Linked DNA regions of Homo sapiens. The protein of the gene in region 2 purifies or fractionates together with the protein of the main gene of each other region. This does not show direct contact. Each region holds a gene or a part of one and is shown on either strand. Other genes may lie near its edges.

Evidence for each region.
Region 1: the proteins of KRT80 (region 2) and SERPINB12 fractionate together in Homo sapiens (co-fractionation; one large-scale study listed by BioGRID). This does not show direct contact.
Region 3: the proteins of KRT80 (region 2) and RNLS purify together in Homo sapiens (pull-down; one study listed by IntAct). This does not show direct contact.
Region 4: the proteins of KRT80 (region 2) and SULF2 purify together in Homo sapiens (co-immunoprecipitation; one large-scale study listed by IntAct). This does not show direct contact.

The regions. Positions count from the first base shown.
Region 1 is NC_000018.10:63,551,791-63,556,530, reverse strand, and holds part of SERPINB12 (serpin B12), read right to left. Parts: intron 390-4,740; coding exon of another isoform or gene 372-389; coding exon 204-371; intron 1-203. UniProt on the Homo sapiens protein: Inhibits trypsin and plasmin, but not thrombin, coagulation factor Xa, or urokinase-type plasminogen activator. May play a role in cell differentiation.
Region 2 is NC_000012.12:52,177,815-52,182,554, forward strand, and holds part of KRT80 (keratin, type II cytoskeletal 80), read right to left. Parts: intron 3,150-4,740; coding exon 3,089-3,149; coding exon of another isoform or gene 2,795-3,088; coding exon 2,699-2,794; intron 1-2,698.
Region 3 is NC_000010.11:88,355,555-88,360,294, forward strand, and holds part of RNLS (renalase isoform 1 precursor), read right to left. Parts: intron 1-4,740. UniProt on the Homo sapiens protein: Catalyzes the oxidation of the less abundant 1,2-dihydro-beta-NAD(P) and 1,6-dihydro-beta-NAD(P) to form beta-NAD(P)(+). The enzyme hormone is secreted by the kidney, and circulates in blood and modulates cardiac function and systemic blood pressure.
Region 4 is NC_000020.11:47,659,595-47,664,122, forward strand, and holds part of SULF2 (extracellular sulfatase Sulf-2 isoform a precursor), read right to left. Parts: intron 4,029-4,528; coding exon 3,859-4,028; intron 3,619-3,858; coding exon 3,476-3,618; intron 2,303-3,475; coding exon 2,179-2,302; intron 137-2,178; coding exon 103-136; intron 1-102. UniProt on the Homo sapiens protein: Exhibits arylsulfatase activity and highly specific endoglucosamine-6-sulfatase activity. It can remove sulfate from the C-6 position of glucosamine within specific subregions of intact heparin.

The DNA.
Region 1 (4,740 bases), on a different chromosome or scaffold from region 2:
AGTTTAAGTGAGACTTTAAGAATGGTAGGATCGAAGAGGAAGTAAGATGGAGAAAATACAAATAAAGACTCAGAGACAGGGATGGGTTCTGACCAAGCCCAGGGTGCAATAAGCCCCTTGGCTTGCCTAAGTGGGATTAGGGTCTGACTTTGAGTGTGGACCCAGAGTTTAGGACCCTGTGTAGCACCCTAGTGGACACGTACCTCATCAATCTGATGTGCACTGTCACTTCTAGCACCCAAGCGTACCATACCAAGGGCAGCTGAGAGGCTCAGGGGAGAGAAAAATATGTTTTTATGACGATCATCTTTGCCTATCTCTTGAAAAAGATCAAAGCAAAATTTGGTGTTTGCTGTAACAAGAGAGTCCATTGTAAAACTTATAACGATCTAAAACCAAAAAAAAAGGAGAAAGAGAAAATGGTGATTGGAAGAAAATAAGTGAACAAACAATTTTATTTTACATACCTGAAATACAATCATGCACAATTATTCAGTATGCTATTAAGAACTGGAAAACTAAGGTCATTATCATCCCTGTATATAAATATTGGTGTTGATATTGATAGACAGAGATCTATTTTCATTTAGTAGTGTGAATTCGTTTCCTGGGGCTGCCATAAGAAATTACCACAGACTGAGTGGTTTAAATAGCAGGAGTTTATTCTCCCATGGTTCTGGGGGACAAACGTCCAAAATCAAGATATCAGCAGATTTGGTTCATTTCAAGACTCTCAAGGAAAATCTGTTTCATGCCTCTCTCTCAGCTTGTGGTGGTTGCCAGCAAACTTTGACATTCCTTGACTTGTAGACAAATCACTCAAGTCTCTGCCTCCATCTTCACATCCTTCTCTTTATTGTCCATGTATGTATCCAAATTTCCCTCTTCTTTTAAAGACAGCAGTCACTGAATTAGAGCCCATCCTAAGCCAGTACAACCTCATCTTAATTTGACCACATCTGCAAAGACCCTATTTCCAAACAAGGTCATATTCACAGGTAGAAGGATTAGGACTTAAACTATATTTTTAGGGGACATAATCCTACCCACTTTGTGGTGGAACTCCCTGTATTCACGTAAAATGAAGCCAAAGGCTAACATTCTTATTATCAAGTTAGCAGCCAAGCAAACATCATCCCATCTCATTCTTCTCCACAGATTGTGGCTGGTTCTGCTTACACCTTTTGCCTGTACTCTCCCCTCATTGCTCTGTGACTGAGGATATGCCCAGCAAATTCCCATGGGTCATGTGCCTTGTTAACATTCTCACCCCCTTTTGACTCATCCCACATGCAAACTACAGAATTTGAGGCACTTTAGTCAGTCATTCATATTGTTCAAGAGACAATAAATCTTGAATGATGCTGGGGGTCTTGATGTCACCAGGTGTACTAGTCCATTTTCACACTGCTACAAAGAATACCAGAGACTGTGTCATTTATAAAGGAAAGAGTTTTAATTGACTCACAGTTCCGCATGGCTGGGGAAGCCTCAGGAAACTTACAATCATGGCGGAAGGAGAAGGAGAAACAAGTACCTTCTTCATTAGGCGGCAGGAGAGAGAGAGAGAAAAGGAGGAACTGCCAAACACTTATAAAACCATCAGATCTCATGAGAATTCACTCACTATCACAAGAACAGCATGGGGGAAACTTCCTCCATGATCCAATCACCTCCCACCAGGTCTCTCCCTCAACACGTGGAGATTATGGGGATCACAATGTGTGATGAGATTTGAGTAGGGACACAGAGCCAAACCATATCACCAGGTTCAATGTCCTCTTTGACAGTGTAGAACTACAGATAATATAGAACCAGAGTGAGATAGTGACTTCCTAAGAACAGGTATCTTGCCTTCCCCACCCAATCTATTCCAGAGTATCAAGAGAATATGTAGATCTCACCACTGACCTATGCCTTTCAAATGAAATGCCTTTTCTTTTGTCTCTTTGCCTATAGATATTGTGTATTTCCAAGATAGAAATGTAAATCCTCTTATTTGTGCTTTTATCATCAGATACAGCACACCATAAGCATGAAGAAATATTGCTGCATTGAATGGAATGGTGTAATTTGTTTTAACACTTTCCCAGTTAATATAGATTTTCTTAGCCTATAAAACCTAATTCAAAAAGATAACATTATGTAACTTTTTAAAAAATGTGTCTAACATGTGCCAAATATCTTACATGTGTTAGCTTTAATCCTACAACTCTGCAAGGTAGATATGATCATTCCTTCTTTTTCAGAAAAGAAAACTGCATAATCAAATAGCACATATATTTGGCCCCAAACTAAGTAATCTTTCTACTGTATCTATCGTTTCTAAGTTGCCCCTCAACTGATGATAGGTGATCAAACACATGCCTGCTGTATGTGGGTACTCTCCCCCCTTATTCAGCTTATAGTCCATTTTATTGCTACATTTTCTTTCTGCCAAGTTTGTACCTAACTCACAGTTCTTATCTTGCATCTGGGAACTGGGTTTGAGACGTACTTTGTATTTTCAAACTAATTTCAGGGTAATCATAGATCACCAGAGTGTTTTCAGGAGCATTATGCCTTAATTGGTGGGTGTTTTTTGAGTAATGGATGTCCTGGATGTATCTGGAAATTCAATAATGCCTCACAACTCAGAAAGCTACCTTTGCATATGTTGGTAAACATCTTGATGTCCAACAGATTTTCTCTACACATAGCTCACATTACCCATCTAGTAACAAGTCTACTAACAAAGAAAAGAAAACCAACAAATTAAAGATGGTCTGAGTTGGGGGGATTTCACAGGCTTTCGATTAATGATAAAATTTTGTGTGAAATGTAGTCTAATATTTTTTAAAACCTTTGTTGTATAACTTAGGTTAATGTTTGATCAAAATCTTCAGCTCGAAGGAGGAGAAGGTAAAGGGAATCCTGGCAATTTGGCCATCACTATTAAAAGAAGACAAGAGCCTGACTATATTGAAGGAAAAGAAGGGGTTGGTTAGAAAGACTGAATGATCCCAACCTGGCTCTTCAAATGTTCCAGTTAATCACTTGGCTTCACCCCTTCTGCCTTCTAGCATGAGCACTCCCAGAACTGAATGATCAGAGTCTTGCCTGCTTTAGAAAGGACATGACTACTCATGCAGGCCAACTCCCTACTTCTCAAGATAAAAAAAACTGAGGCCAAATGAGGCGAAGTGACTTGCAACAATCATGCAGCTGTCCAGAAGCAAAGCAAGGCTAAGACTTCCTCATGCCTAGGGCTGCTTCCTCCTAGATCACACAGTTTTTCACATTCCATTCCATTCTAATTCTGGCACTACACTTACTCACTCTGTGGGCTACAGAACACTCCAAAACTCTCTCTGCCTGTTTCTGCATCAAGCTTCTATAAACTTTGTGAACTACTTTCCAGGAGTACTGTGATGCTCTCACCCCAGTAACAATTCCCTTTTCTGAGTGTTACCTGGTTCTAAGCTTTCATTACAGTTGTGTGCAGCTTTAATGCTGCCTCACCTCCCAAGGGAGTTGAGAGAACAATAGTAACAGAAAACAACGAAAAAAAAACAGCTGGACAGTTGCTGTTAAAGTTTTATGACTATATGTAAGCCCTTACAATAGGAAGATCTTTCCTGGCTTTACATACAAGTCTAAAACATAGCAAATAATGAACATTTAATGACTAGATTAAAATGTCATCTGCTAACCACCTTCTGAAGGGTTGCTTGGTTATTTTGGGGGGTGGGGGTGAGTCAGTTTTTTTAAATTAGAAACTGCCTAAATCTGACACCAACCTAATTATGAAGTTCTCCCACTGGGTTAGTCACTATATATAAAAGATGAACTGAACAAGACACAATCTCTGCCTTTGAGAAATCTATGACCTAACAGAGCAGATAATGCATTCGCAGATTCAGGAGTAGAGTTTAAGACGCATAGAAGAGTAAGATATTAATTTACAAAATGAAATAGAAAAGGGAAAAGAGTATTTTGTAGGAAGCACTCATTAAGATTTGATTATGCTAATAACACAGATTCAAATAGGCAATTTTAAAATATAACACTTTAAAAATACTTTAAAGCTTTTTAACATTGCTTTTATTTATTAAAAATAAGCTTAGACTGTTAGTAAAAATCATGTTATGTTATGTTGTTGCAATTAAAAAGAAAAGAGAAAGAAATTTAAGATTAATTGTCTTGTTCTCATCAAAAATCCCTTTGAAACCAGCCTAATTTTCCATAGAAATGAGTTTATGGTCTTTTTGAATAAACATAGAAATTGACCCTCCTGGTCTTAAAGCTTGAAACTTACATTTGTCGTATCTGAATTACTTCTTCAGGAAACCCATTCGCAGGCCTCCCAGAGAGTATCAAGCAACTGAAATTCACATCATGGCATGCACACAAAGAGATAGCAGAACCCACACTCGTCTTGATTATTTTCTTTCCCCTCCCTAATCCTTATTTTCCCATATGTAGCTACATTTCTTCCCCACTATATAAACCTCCCATTTTAGTAAGTTGAGGGAGAATGATTTGAGATTTATCCCCATCCCTTTGGCTGACGTCATCTGATTAAAGCCTTCTTCCCTGGCAACACTTGTCTCAGTGATTGCCTCTCTGTGCGGTGAGCAATAGGACATAGACCAAATCCCTGGCATTTCAATAATGCCTTTTACATGGACACTAATTTGAAAACAGTAATGACTAAATCACAAATTCCAAATCAATTGGATTCAAAATAGGACCACTTTA
Region 2 (4,740 bases):
AGGTTTTTCTTCCACCTGAGGCAGGTGTGGCTGGCACAGTCTTTACTCAGAGCTGCTCTGTCCAATGAGGTAGATGTCGAAATAATTATATTTTTGATATATTGGGCTAAATAAAATATATTATTAAAATTATTTTTTCTGTTATTTTAAAATGTGGTGACTAGAAAACTTAAAATTACATATGCAGTTCACATTGTATTTCTATCAGACGGCACTGACTTAAGACACCCTCTGGTGTGGGGAATAGTTTTGGCAAAGAGTCAGCATTGCCCTCTTAGCCTGCAGCAGTGTATGGAGAGAAAGGCAAACCTCCAATTTCAACCCCATCTTGCTGCTTTCAAAAGTAATAATAACTGCTGTGGTTCCCTGGCCCCTACTGCCTCCATCGCAAGCCCTTCTCCACAGCAGGCTCAGGATAGCACAACCACACCTGAAACCCGCTGTTTGCCACCCCGCCCCAGTGCCCACCGAAGGCTGCCTGTCACACTCAGAATGAGGTCCAAGTCGTGAGACAACCCTGTGAGGCACTCTCTGACCCAAAGCTCCCACCCTGCCCCGTGTGCTCTGACCAGAGACTTCTTTCTTTTTCTTTAATCGCCAGGCTCCCCTCCTGCCTTAGGGGCTTTGCATAGCAATTCTGTGCCATCTCCAGTCTCCACTGGGCTGGATCTCTGCCACTCTTAGGGAGGGTACCGCCTGTGAGAGGCCCCGCTCATGGGCTCTGAGGCTCTTCCCTCCTTCCGGCTCCAGCGCAGCACCCGGTTTCTTTGCATCCCAGAATCTGTCACCCTGCGAAGCGATCTTGTCCAGATATTTGCTGACTTGCTTATGACTTGTCTCAGCTAAGTCATGCCCTCCTTGAGAGAAGGGACCTTGCCCAGGCTGTGGTATCAGTGCCTGGCACTTAGTAGGCATGCAATAAACATTTGTTAAATGAATGAGTGGGCTGAGTCCTCCTCACAGCCCTATGAGGCTGGTCCTGTTACTCTCTCCATGCTACAGATAAGGACACTAAGGCACAGAGAGGAGAAAAAACTTGCCTAAAGTTACAGAAATAGTAAAAAAAAAAAACAAGGCCAAGTTGGGATTGGGGCCCAAGGACTGCAAAATCCAAAGGGAACCCACAGGCCTGGCTACTGGGGCAGGGGCCAAGAAGTCTTGTGGGGTGCTCAGGAATATCACTGGTTATGCCCAGCCTTCTTCCAGTTATGTCTCTACAGCTGCAGGGCCTGCATCATGGCTTAGAGCTTGAGCTCTGAGCTTGCTGAGACATCAGTGAGCAGGTAGAGAAACACTGGGCTCGGTTTTCAGAATCTGCACTCCATCTAGGCTCGGCAGAATCTGCACTCACCCATGGACTCAGCCTCTCAGAGGCAGTATGAGTGGGTGGAGGCCTAAGGGTGGCAGAGATCCAGCCCAGTGGAGACAGGAGATGGCCCTGCTGATGCCAGCCTGGGCTGCACCAGCCCACAGTGAGTTTGGGCAGAGAAGCCCCTAGCCCAGTTCCCACCCAGCCAGTGGGCATGGTGCCCTGGTCAGCCCCATAGCACTTGGCCTGGCTGTGGGGGGATTTGTTAGGGCCAGGAAGCTTTTCAGGGCTGTGGGGAGAGCGGACTGCCTAGGAGGGCTGCCTTCCTGCTGCTCCCAAGGGTTTGCTGTTCTCTCTGCTATGCTACCTCTCGTGGCCACAAACAAGACTCAGTTCCACGGAGGCCCCAGCTGGCAGCTGGGACTGCTGGAAAGGACTGTGACCCATGACAGGGCCATGAGGCCCGGTCTTCCTTTCCACAGGATGCAGCCATGAAGCTGTGGTCAGCAGATCATAGGGCCATTTTAGCAGAATCTGTAAGTTGTGGTGGTGACTTTGATCTCAGCCTTGACCTTGGCTGCACTGCCATAGCTTGGCACCAGCAGTGTGCAGCACTTAGGCGGGCAAGCCCTGTTATCTCCAACAGTGGTGCTGCCTGCTCCTAGCTGAACTGCAGACCTCTGTGGAAGGGACTTTAGCTCAGGAGTGTCACCCCTGAACCTCCTCACCCTTGAAACAAGTGGTGTGGAGAGGAGGACACATATCCTGAAGGGTGCCTAGGAGTCAGCAGCTGGCATGGAGGAGTGGTGTCCAGAAGCCAGCGGCAGTGCCCATCTAATGGCTGTGTTGATGCATGCCATGCTGTTATGGGCCCTTGTACACTGGGCCCCACTGAGGACTTAGGAAACAAATGCGAATGTTTCCTCTGTCTTCGCCAAAAATGGGGAAAACGGAAAGGCAGGCCTATCAGAACTAGCACTGTGGGTGCTGTGGTTTAGGCTGCAGGAATTAGGGAGAGATCAGTTCAATCAGCATGCTCGTTCCAGACCCCTGGGTTCCATGCCACTGAGGCCAGCCTCCTGACCCTTGTCCGAGGCACCTGGTCCCCAGCATGCCCTCAGTACTCTAGCACACAAAGGTATAGTTCTTCCAGAAAGAGTGGCCTTTGGGGAACCAGCCCATGTTCCATGAGATGAATGTCCAGGGGTCATGCAGGGTTATTGACACCATCACAGGAAGGGGTTTAGGAAATTATTATTCTGGGGCTGGAAATTGTAAGTGACTGTTGGAGGTTCCATGCCCCACTGGATGGCTGTGCTTCCCCTGTGTCCTTTACCCATGGACCAGCCAGCTCTGGGCTTGGCAAGACACTGGCCCCATCTCACTCACCTGCTCATAGATGGTTTTCATCAACTCCACGAAGCTCTCCAGGCTTTTTAACTTGGTTTCCAGTTCAGTCCGATGAAGACACTCTGCATCCAGGTCCTGGGGTTGGCAGCAGTGGTGAGTGGTGGGAGAGGGAATGGAGGGTCCCAGGGCAGGAGTGGGCTGGGGGGCTGCCTCCTGGGTGAGAGTGGGGGTGATTCCAGAGGAGATCTGGCTCAGAGCCTCGAAAAAGGAGCTGGATGGGGATGGGGGTATCTCCCTGTCTGTCTGTTGGTCCTGGGACTTAAGCCTCTGAGGGCTTTGATTGGGCATAAAGGAGAGTAGGATATCTGGAGGGAAAGAGGGCCCAGGGCCCATGAGGAAGGAGCCCCTGGGGCAGGCTGGGCAGGCTACCTTCTTCAGCTGAACAAAGGTGAACTCCATGTCTGTGCGCTTGGAGATCTCATCCTCATACCTGGGAGGGAGAGAGGGGTTGCTCAGCTGGATATGGTGGGGGCTTGGGCCTGGTGAACTCCCCTTGGTTGGGGCTCAGGGCCTGTGCTATCCCACTTGGGGTCTCTTTGCCAATTAAAGAAAAGCAGCCCATCCTTCTCCCTCTTGCATCTTCTATGACACATCCTCTCTCTCTCCCCCCGACCTCCTGGCATTGGCTCCCCGTTCCTCACTCCCTCCTGATGACACAGTCCTCTCCCAGTGGCTTCTGCCCTTTCCTGGCTCTGCTCCACACCCACTCCCCTCCAGGAGGCCTCCCTGATTGTGCAGCCCCTCACCCTGGCACTTTATCCCCTCATCTTTACCTGACCTCCTTCCCTGGCAATCTCAGGTTCACTCAAGTCCGCTGGGAGCATCTTGCTCACACCTCACCTCTCCCACCTCCATGCCTTCCCTGCAGCCCCAGCCACCACCCCTCTGCTTTGCGAGCCAGTAGGACACCATCCCATTGTATTCCCTCCAAAGGGAGGCTGGAAAGAGTGTGAACTTTGCTGTCAGAGGGACCCCCAGTGTGTTTTTGGGCAAGTTGCATCACCCCTCCTCTCTTGGCTTCCTGCCTCTAAGGGGTAGGCATGTGCCCACGTGTACAGGGGGCTGACAAACCCACCCCTGACGCAGTTGACAGCCAGCTACAGGCCGCATAGGCCATACTCAACAAAGCTCAATAACGCTCTTCTCAGTTTGGACTTCTTACTCGCTCCCACCTTGGGTTTGGAACAAGGACACCGTTGGGTGGGGAGGACAGGACCCCCAGATCCCTGGCCCGACCCTCTTCCTCAAGTCAAGACATTTGTTTGTCTTAGCCCCAGGGTGGGTGTCTGCTGGCTCCAGACTTCTCGCTGGCCCCAGCTGCTGTGGGGATTCAGCAGCTTCTGTTTTTTTCCCTCCTATTCGGGGAATGCCTGAATCACTGGCGGCTCTAATTACAGCCGCCTGCCTACCTCAGGCCCTAGCCTCCCAGCAGGGCTGCGTCACTCATCACCCATTGAGCTGGCTATATCTGGCGCCCCTCATGCCTTCTTCTTTCCCACCAGCCCACCTGAGGAGCTGAGGGGCGTGGACCCAATGGCAGGGCACGTGGGTTTCTGGTCTCAGTGTACCAGGGGCCCACACCCTCCCTGGCCACTGCCTTGGCTGCCAAGAGTCTGTTAGGGGCTTTGATGGTACAGGTCCTGGGGGTGGGGCAGAGGAGCAGGCCGGGGAGAACGTTCTGCTGTCTAGGCATCCCCAGAGAGAACTAAATTGGACTTGAGTGGGGAATAACAGGTGCTGAGTGCTTCACCTGCACTCTCTCTGGTGGTCCTCAGAGCACCCAGCTAGGGAAGTCCCATTGGTCTCATTTTACAGATGAGGAAATGGAGGCTCAAGGAAGGACTGGGGGCTCCTGGAGTGTGCTGATGAAGCAAGGGGACCAGAGCCAGGCTACTTGGGCTGAAATCCTGGCTTCCTTGCTAACCAGCTGTGTCCTGGGGTGAGTTCCTGTGTGCCTCAGCCACGATTATAGTGATGCTGTGACGATTAAATGGGGGCAATTCACAGAGTGCTTGCAGCGG
Region 3 (4,740 bases), on a different chromosome or scaffold from region 2:
CTGATTGTTCCTGTGGAGGTTTCGTCTCAGCAGGATACCTGGCCGTGTGACGTGTCAGTCTGCCCCTACTGAGGGGTGCCTCCGAGATAGGCTACTCGGGGGTCAGGGGCCCACTTGAGGAGGCAGTCTGTCCGTTCTCAGATCTCAAACTCCATTCTGGGAGAACCACTACTCTCTTCAAAGCTGTCAGGCAGGGACATTTAAGTCTGCAGAGGTTTCTGCTGCCTTTTGTTTGGCTATGCCCTGCCCCCAGAGGTGGGGTCTACAGAGGCAGGCAGGCCTCCTTGAGCTGCGGTGGGCTCCACCCAGTTCGAGCTTCCAGATCGCTTTGTTTACCTACTCGAACTTCAGCAATGGTGGGCACCCCTCCCCCAGCCTCGCTGCTGCCTTGCAGTTCGATCTCAGACTGCTGTGCTGGCAACGAGAGATGAGCAAGGCTCCGTGGGCATGGGACCCTCTGATCCTTGCGCGGGATATAATCTCCTGGTGTGCCGTTTGCTAAGACCATTGGAAAAGAGCAGTATTAGGGTGGGAGTGACTGATTTTCCAAGTGCTGTCTGTCGCAGCTTTGCTTGGCTATGAAAGGGAATTCCCTACCCCTTGCGCTTCCCACGTGAGGCGATGCCTCTCCCTGCTTTGGCTCATGCTCGGTGTCCTGCACCCACCATTCTGCACCCACTGTCCAACAAGCCCCAGTGAGATGAACCCGGTACCTCAGTTGGAAATGCAGAAATCACCTGTCTTCTGCGTTACTCATGCCGGGAGCTGTAGACTGGAGCTGTTCCTATTCAGCCGTCTTGGAACTGCCCCCCGATTCAATTCTTAAGTGGACAATTTTGTGTTATAAAGTTCACGGCTATTTGTTTAATTGGAATAATCATGAACTCTTTTAAGTGTCACAAGGTGACAGGATTTAAAGCCTCAGGCCCATCCCAGTTATTTATAACATCTCATATTATGTCCTTCTTTTTATAAAGAGTTGACGTAATAAATAGCCATATGGAATAACACTTCTGCATATTTTGCAAAACAGCCATTGAAGGTATTATATATTATATTAGTGTTTGTTACTCAAAGATTCTAACAATAAAATTCTTGTGAGGATAAATTCTATGAATACATTCTAAGTTTGTTCATTTGCTTTTCTTCTTTTAAGATGAGTTGGATTATTTTCTTTGATAAGATATTGAAAACTATGTCATTATGGCTATTGGCCATCACATCTCTAGAATTCAGATAGATTGTCTTAATCTCCTCAGATTGCTGACTATTGGCTATTGGCCATCACATCTCTAGAATTCAGATAGATTGTCTTAATCTCCTCAGATTGCTGCCTATTGGCTATTTTATTGATCATTAACACTCCTCAGATGGTGACAAGGAAAGAATGCTAAATTTCTGATCATTTTCAGGGTTGCTTACTCATTTTATTTATTTAAGTTGCCCTAACTCCTATCTGTATTGGTAACAGAGGCTGCATTCACCTAAGTTAGACTTTTATATTTATGCCCTTTGCTTCAGAGACTATAATATCCAAATTGAAGACTGGAACTGTTAATTATAATAATACGTACCATAAATACTTACTTTCTAAATGCCACACAAAGTCTTCATATGTTCGAATCATTTAATTCTCAGTAACCCTTTGGTATTGGTATGGTATTATTTTACTTATCTTATTGAGGAGGCAACAGATAGTTTAATTTACCCAAAGTTACACAGCTAGTAAATGGTGGAACTGAGTTGAGTCTGGACTCCTGGACAGTCTAACTTCAAATTTAAGATCCTGGGATGGACCTCAGAGATCTTCTTGAGAGGTAAATGTATCTCACTTGTGGCACTATTCCTTATGTTCTCTACATGACAGATATTGCTGATTGTTGGAAGATCTTTTTCTACTGAGTCTATACCCAGCCTGGGAATCATTCTTAGTTGTTGTTCTAGGTGGCAACTACTTATTGAATGATTCTCACTTGTGTTGAAACCTATTTATCATTCACACAGGTATAATCTGTTCCTTTTACAGAACAATTTATACTAAATGTTTTAGTAGAAACTGGCTAGATGTTCACCAAATCCACTTTTTCTTCTTCCTACATATATAGGTAGACTACATTTCCAGCTTTCCTTCCAAATAAGTGTGGTCACATAACTGTGTCCTAACCAACAGAATGTGAGCACACTTGAGGTGCACCATTTCTAGGCCTACCCCTAAAAACTCCTCTGGCTCTCCTCCATCCTCTTTCCATCCACAGATTGATGCCTATGAGCACACTGACTCTGGTAGTTACCTGATGAAGTTGGCAGAGTCAAAAAATGGATGGAGCCTGGGTTCCTAAATAAAGCTTTGAAGAAAGCTACCTATCAATCACAAACACCTGTTTGGGCTTTAGGTGAGCAAGAAATAAACCTCAGTCATGTTCAGGCCATTAAAGTTTTTGGGTATGTTTACTAAAAACACTAGCGTTACAAATACAAGACCTATACAAAAGTACAACAGTAGCATTTTTCAGAACCAGAATCTGAATGTAGGTCTTGTGAGTCCAAATACTTCCCACTACGCCAATCTTACTAATTTTAAAAACTACCCAAGTTAATATGATAAACACCTTATTTTAACATAAATTTTCTCAAATTTTAACTCCATGAAGATTTGAGTTTATTGGCAACAAGGGTTCTTTCATTTCTAAAAAAAATCTCAAGTATTTCCCAATTGATGCCTTCAGGAACGAACCTCCCACTCCAATTATCTGGCCTACAATTCCTGCCCAGGTGTGAAGCATGAAAGGTGACATCAAGTCAGGGTTTCTCAAATATATACTTGGGAACCATTTCTGTGGGATGTTAGTAGGTTTGGTGCTGAAATACAATATCCCATGATAAAGTACATTTAGGAAATTCTAGATTAAAAGAAGTAAAAAGGTGTCTTTTCTGTAGGAATATCCTTTAAAAAGATAATATGTCCTGATATTCTCCAAAATAAATGTCTGTAGTATTTTGCAAATTTATTTGATGACAGAGCCCTTTTTCAAAGAGCAACTCAAGGAAATAGTGTTCCACTGAACACATTTTGGGAAACACAAACAAGGATATTGGGGCATATTCATAACTATTGTTACTTGAAGTCGGTCTAGTACATCTTGGAATCTACTCCCTCTGCCTAAGGAAATTTTGGTTCTGGCTGTGGCTTTCTACATCTACTGTACTACCTATTCCTGACTTCTAACAAATTATTATGCCTTGATCTTTGGGCTACTTCTATATCCTCTAGCTCTCTTCAAGACTTAACAACTGACTGTATTTTGTGGTCTCAACCATGCCAGACTTTGTTTATCTTGTTGCTTCTCTACCTTGACAGAACACAAATGTTTCATTGGTTGTGTATGTACATTGTAGTATTAATTATTGATTCAATCAAACACCCCACATAAAGCAAGGGTGTGGGGTAGTGTTACTGGCATAAAGAAACATCTCCTGGCCGGGTACAGTGGCTCATGCCTGTAATCCCAGCACTTTGGGAGGCCAAGGCAGTTGGATCATTTGAGGTCAGGGGTTCAAGACCAGACTGGCCAACTTGGTGAAGCCCCGTCTCTACTACAAGTACAAAAATAATTAGCTGGGCATGGAGGCGGGCACCTGTACTCCCAGCTACTTGGGAGCCTGAGGCAGGAGAATCGCTTAAGCTCAGGAGGCAGAGGTTGCAGTGAGCAGAGATCTTGCCACTACACTACAGCCTGGGCCACAGAGCGAAACTACATTAAAAAAAAAAAACAAAAAAACTCTTACTGTCCTAGTTAAATATCAATATCAATAAAATAGAGTGAAGTTACATTACATGGGCATTTGTAGTATGCGAATTCAACTAGACCCATTTAGTACCCTGGCCCCCAGATAGTGAGAAAAAAATAGTTTAAATGCAAAGCAGTTAGATTTTACGTTATGAAATGCCATTACTGGCATTCTGTCTCACTTAATTTAAAACTCGCATAATTGAAGATTAATTTCCCATACAGTTGTCAAAGAAAAGCAGGTATTTCTTTGCTTGCTGAAGTGGCACCACCATGGGCTTTAGCAAAAACATGGTTTCCAATTCATGTAGCCACTCCTTTCAATATTGTATGATTGCTGATATAAAAAATTTTTAAAATTCTATTATTTCAAATGCTTCCAATCATGAGATAATTTATTAATATTTTATGTTGTACTCTTTCAAATTTGCATAATTTTATAAATTATTACTGCACTGTACTGTGGGTGCTTTTACCCACCATCCCACTCCATTTTTATAGCAGATGTATAGTCCGTTAGGAGATATGACTCTGCTATTTCTTTCCTTCCTGTGTGCCTTTCATAGTAGAAAATATCACTGGGTCCTATAAATCCAAATCAACTTTTAATCTGGCTTCACCAAAGAAACAGAAATCTATTGAATGTTGGGAAAATAGTTGTACTGAATTTACTGAAAGATGTTACATCATTCTCTAAAATGTCATGTGGTTTTAAGAAACTTTGAAGGTAATTTTGAATGTACATGACTCTTTTTATGTGACAACTTTAGAACTTTACCTCCCATATAAGATGTGACTCTACTTGAAGATAATGGACATTATTGATTGCTAATCCAGCATTTAGTACTTCCTTCCTTCTTCCTAACAAAACTCTATTTTATTCAGGTAGCACTCCTCATAACTAAAGGAAAGATGACCCTAGTACCAGTTCCAGGAGTAGAACTGGACTTGT
Region 4 (4,528 bases), on a different chromosome or scaffold from region 2:
GGCAGTTTCTCAAGATAACAGGTGCAGACTCACAGAGATGAGACTGAAGGATGGGCCAAGATAGGAGAACTTTGTTTAGGCTTTAATAATAAAACGAAATACCTGTATTGCTCATAGCTTCCTCCATCTTTAAGTCCTAAATGAAGGAGAAATGAAAAACAAAACAGGAGCAGATAGTTTAGGCAAAACAACCCCAACACACCAGAAAACCATCTTATGCTTTTTTGTCACAATCCCATGATGCTGATAGTGTTCCCTACTCAGAGTAGACTGAATTATGAGGGGTAGACTGAATTATGAGGGGAACCTGCCCTAAGTCTCCTAGATAGCCTTGTAGATTGCCTAAAATCCAGTGTCACCATGATCAGTTTCAGGACCCTGATGGCTTCATTCAGCGCTGACCTTAGTTATGGTGAGGGAGGTAGATGCAGGCATGAACATCTGTGCTCCAGAGGACAGAAAGCCAAGAGCCCTGACCAAGTGCAGGAGGGAGTTCCCCTTTGGGCTCTGGGGAAGTTTTCCCGAGGATGTGGCAGGATCAAGTGCGTGGGCTCCGGGGTCAGCCCACCTTGTTCACCTTACTCCTCCATAAAATGAGGATAAGATTCACCTCAAAGCTTATCAGCTAACACATGTAAAATGCTCAGCACAGAGCCTGGCACACAGTGACTAATATGTCATTGCACTTTGATCACAAGAGTAGCAGCACTTGAGTGGCAGAGATTAGGAAGCTACTAGTGAAAATTCTGATCATATCAGGCTCCTGACCAGAAGTATTAGTGCAACATCTTGTGTAAACACATTAGCTCTTCCCTCTTCATAACTAGAGCCGACGGTAGCGTCTGAATTCCTCCTAAGCTGTGTAGCCATTTTCCTGACATGAACTCTAGGCATCCTCCTAGACACAGTCCCTTCCCCAAGGGACCTTAAATACCAAAGGTTTTTTTTAGGCCACTCTCTCTCACTAGTAAGTGAACTTCATTTTTCTTTTAGCTTTGTTTTCTTTTTTTAATATATTTTTTTTATTTTTAGAGATGGGGCGACAGCTCTGTCTCCCAGGCTGGAGTGCAGTGGTGCTATCATAGCTCACTGTAACCTTGAACTCCTGGGCTCAAGTCTCCTCCCACCTCAGCCTTCCAAAGCCCTGGAATCATAGGCATGAGCAACCATGCCTGTTTAGCTTTTTTCATCTTAAAATATCTATCTGGTTGGCATTCTAAACTTAAAACTGCAGATTTTGTCCTGTCCCAAACAAAACTCAGGATTTACCTGGGACTCCTAATCCCGCACCTCCCATCACCATGTTGTCTGGGGGCTTCACCACCTGAATCTGAAATCCATCATCTTTACTGCTCCCACCTCTAGTCCAAGCCACCACCATTTCTCCCTGGATAACTGGGCCATCTTCGCTGTTTTCTCCCATAAAGTCCCATTCTCCACCTAGCAAATGTCGGTGCCCAGGTTAAAACCCTCCATTGGCTTCCTGATACACCACAAATGAAATCTAAACTCTACCGTGGCCTAGGAAGCCCCACACAGGGTGGCCCGATGCCCTCCCGCCACTCTCCACTGGCCTCAGTTGTGTTGGCTGCACCCCCTGAGCTGCTTTCTGCTCCTCACACTTTAAGCTTCCTGGAGCGCCAGCCCTCCACGTTTTCTCAGTGGTCGATTGCATCCTACTTTTCAGGACTCAGTTCAGAGGTCTGACCCTGGTTTTATTTAGCAGTGCCCTTCCCCAGTCACACTGGATTCTACCATCCAGTTTTACCCTTTCCATACAAGCAAGAGGCCTCCTGCTGTGGACTGCTCTTCTTAGGACAACACTGGCTCCACACAAGTCAGCGAGGATGGGGTCATCTTTAGTCAACATGGTTTCAGGTGTAAGTTCTCAGGAAGTGTTTGTTGAATGCATGAGTGGACAAAAGGGAGGACAATGAAATGAGACGGAATTCCGTGTGTTTCCTGGGCAGTTGGTGCAGGTGTTCCTCTCTCAGGAATCACAGCTTGTTAAAGGTCATCTGCCTGCTATGGACAGGGGCTCCCATGACTCGTCTGGAACTGTATCACCTCCCAAAGCCTGGTGATTTCAGGCTCATTCTTGGGGTAGACACCACCTCCTGAGTCCCTTCCTTTGGTTACCCTGCTGTCCAAGGGCCCCACGTTGGGGTGCCTACTCACCCAGGTCCATGTTTCGAGTCCGGGGGTTACACTGCTTGTAACCCTTGCAGCTCCTCAGCTCCATGAGCTGTACGTGTAGCTGGTTGAGGACATCCCTGTCCAGTGTGTTCACTGCATTCATCAGCTGGTTGCAAAAAAGGTAGTCTGTCAACAAGGTAAGTACAGGGACTCTCGCCCTGCCCTTCTACCAACCAGGGGACATATTTCAGGCAGGTGGCGGGTGGAAGGTGCTAGGGGCTGGTGACCTGTTTACTCCAACTTCTGCAAGAGCCAGCGTTTGGAAGAGTTAGGTGACTTTTTGGCTTCAAGTCCCACCAGGTTCACTCTTCATGAGAGTGAAAACTCAGGAGAATAAAAACCACGTCTGTGTATTTAACGTTGGAGTTCTGCAGCCACTGGTCAGGAAACTTCCCAAGCTTGGAAAGAAAGCCTTCCAAGTCTTGGTTTTATCAGCAGCCTTCATTCAGGGGCCCTCAGCTCCTCCTGATTGCAAAGCAGCCATTTGATGAAAGGACGGGTAAGTGGCCTGGGTTCTTGTGTAGTCTGGGAGCTACCGGTGAGGGACTTAACCTACCCCTTTGGTAAAGTATGAGGGTGAACCTATCTAAGGAGAAAGACTGCACACCTATATAGTAATTAAAGCATTTGTGCTGCTGACATTTAAACATCAGATTTCATTTAAATTATTTCAGGCTTTTCTTGAAAGGTCAAAGCCTGGGCAATACCAAGGCCACAGTACAGGAAAGCTCTAGTGCTGGAGCTCAGTAGTGACTGTCCCTGTACAAGGGCCCACATGTTCCGATGACCAGACATGCCACTGCTCCTTTTGGTCTTGTGTGGTCCTGGGCCACTTCAGTCGCATGTGTGTTTAGATGGCTTACTGTACGGAAGCACTTAGCAGAGTGCTTGGTGCAGTGTGTTACTGTTATATTAGCTGCGCGGTCCGTGTAGGCCCTGCAGTGGGTGATATTTGGCTTGATCCTACAGCCTGACAGTGTTAGGAGTCTTCACAAGTTCCGGCAAAACCTGGTTGCATGCTGCATGTTAAGTTAGAGGGAAGAAGCCATATATATTACACACGCAGGGTGATGGAGGCAAAAAGCAGGGTGATGGAGGCAAAAAAGGCTGATTGAACACAGAACCCCCAATCTCAGCAGCTTCACAACTTACTCCCACCGGCTCAGGGACTCAGTGGGACTTGGACAATTTGTCATCACTTCCCTGAGGTTGGGGGGGGCCTACCTGGCAGCACTGGTGTACCCCACACCCCCATCCCTCTAGCTCGGGTTGCCTGTACCTGGTAGGGGTCTGTGTTGAGATCAAAGTACTCTAGGAAGCCAGTTGCAAATTCACAGAAGAGGAAATTGTGAGTCTCATTGATGGTCCTCATGCACCAGTACGTGTTATTGTTGGCGCTGGTGCAGGCACAGAAAGGCCCCACTGCCAAGGAAGAGAGAGCATGTCCTGAGTGCCTGCGGGAGGAGGCCCCATCTGCCAACAGTGATTCCTGTCAGGGACAGCCCCTAAAACCAGTTCGTCAAATGCCAAGAGGCTGTCCCGAGCACCGTGGACCCCTGGTGTTGGGGACCCCCTTTCTGAGAGAGGTCTGGGTCACTAAGTGGAGAAGTTTCTTGAACCCCTGGGCCTCAGCCTGTCCACCCCTGCCCTGGGCTTGCTCACGTGTCCAGAAAGGCGCCGTCTGCCAGTGCTGGTTGTCGTGGGTGAAGCACGTGAGGCCTGGCATGCTGCACGTGTCGTTGTTCTGCAGGCGCTTGAGCAGCTTGCGGAGTTTCTTCTTGCGCTTCTGCTCCCGCAACAGCCACACCTTGTCCTTCTCTTGCAGGCCCTTCCTATGGGCGCAGAGGGCCACACACACCTTGGGCCTCTGAGGGATCAGTGACCCCATGTCTCTGCTCTTCCTGTCCACCTAAGGGCTTCGCTGAGGCTTCTCCAACAGAGAGCCATGGGCATAGCAATTCAGGGTCCCAAGTCCCAGTGCTGCTCCAAGGCAGAGCCGGGACCAGAACCTGGGTCTTGTCATTCTACTTTAACTCCCAAGGGGGCACAAGCTGGGGACAGAACCAGGCAGCTACTGGGACTCCTGTTGACACCCCTTTCCCCTCCTTCCTGTGTCCTGCCCTGCTTGGTGGAGTTGCGGTAACCCCATTTAGCCACAAGGGGGCGTCGGAGGCCCGCTCAGTGTTGATTGGGAAGTAAGGCCTCTTCGAGGGCTACCGTGGACTTCCCAGGGAAGGGCCTGGACTTCTTTCCTTTTCTTCTGAGTTTTAGCTTAAGGGAGGGCCACCTCCTCATGCAGGCCTCTGCATCTCTTCCCCAGGACCTCAAGCTG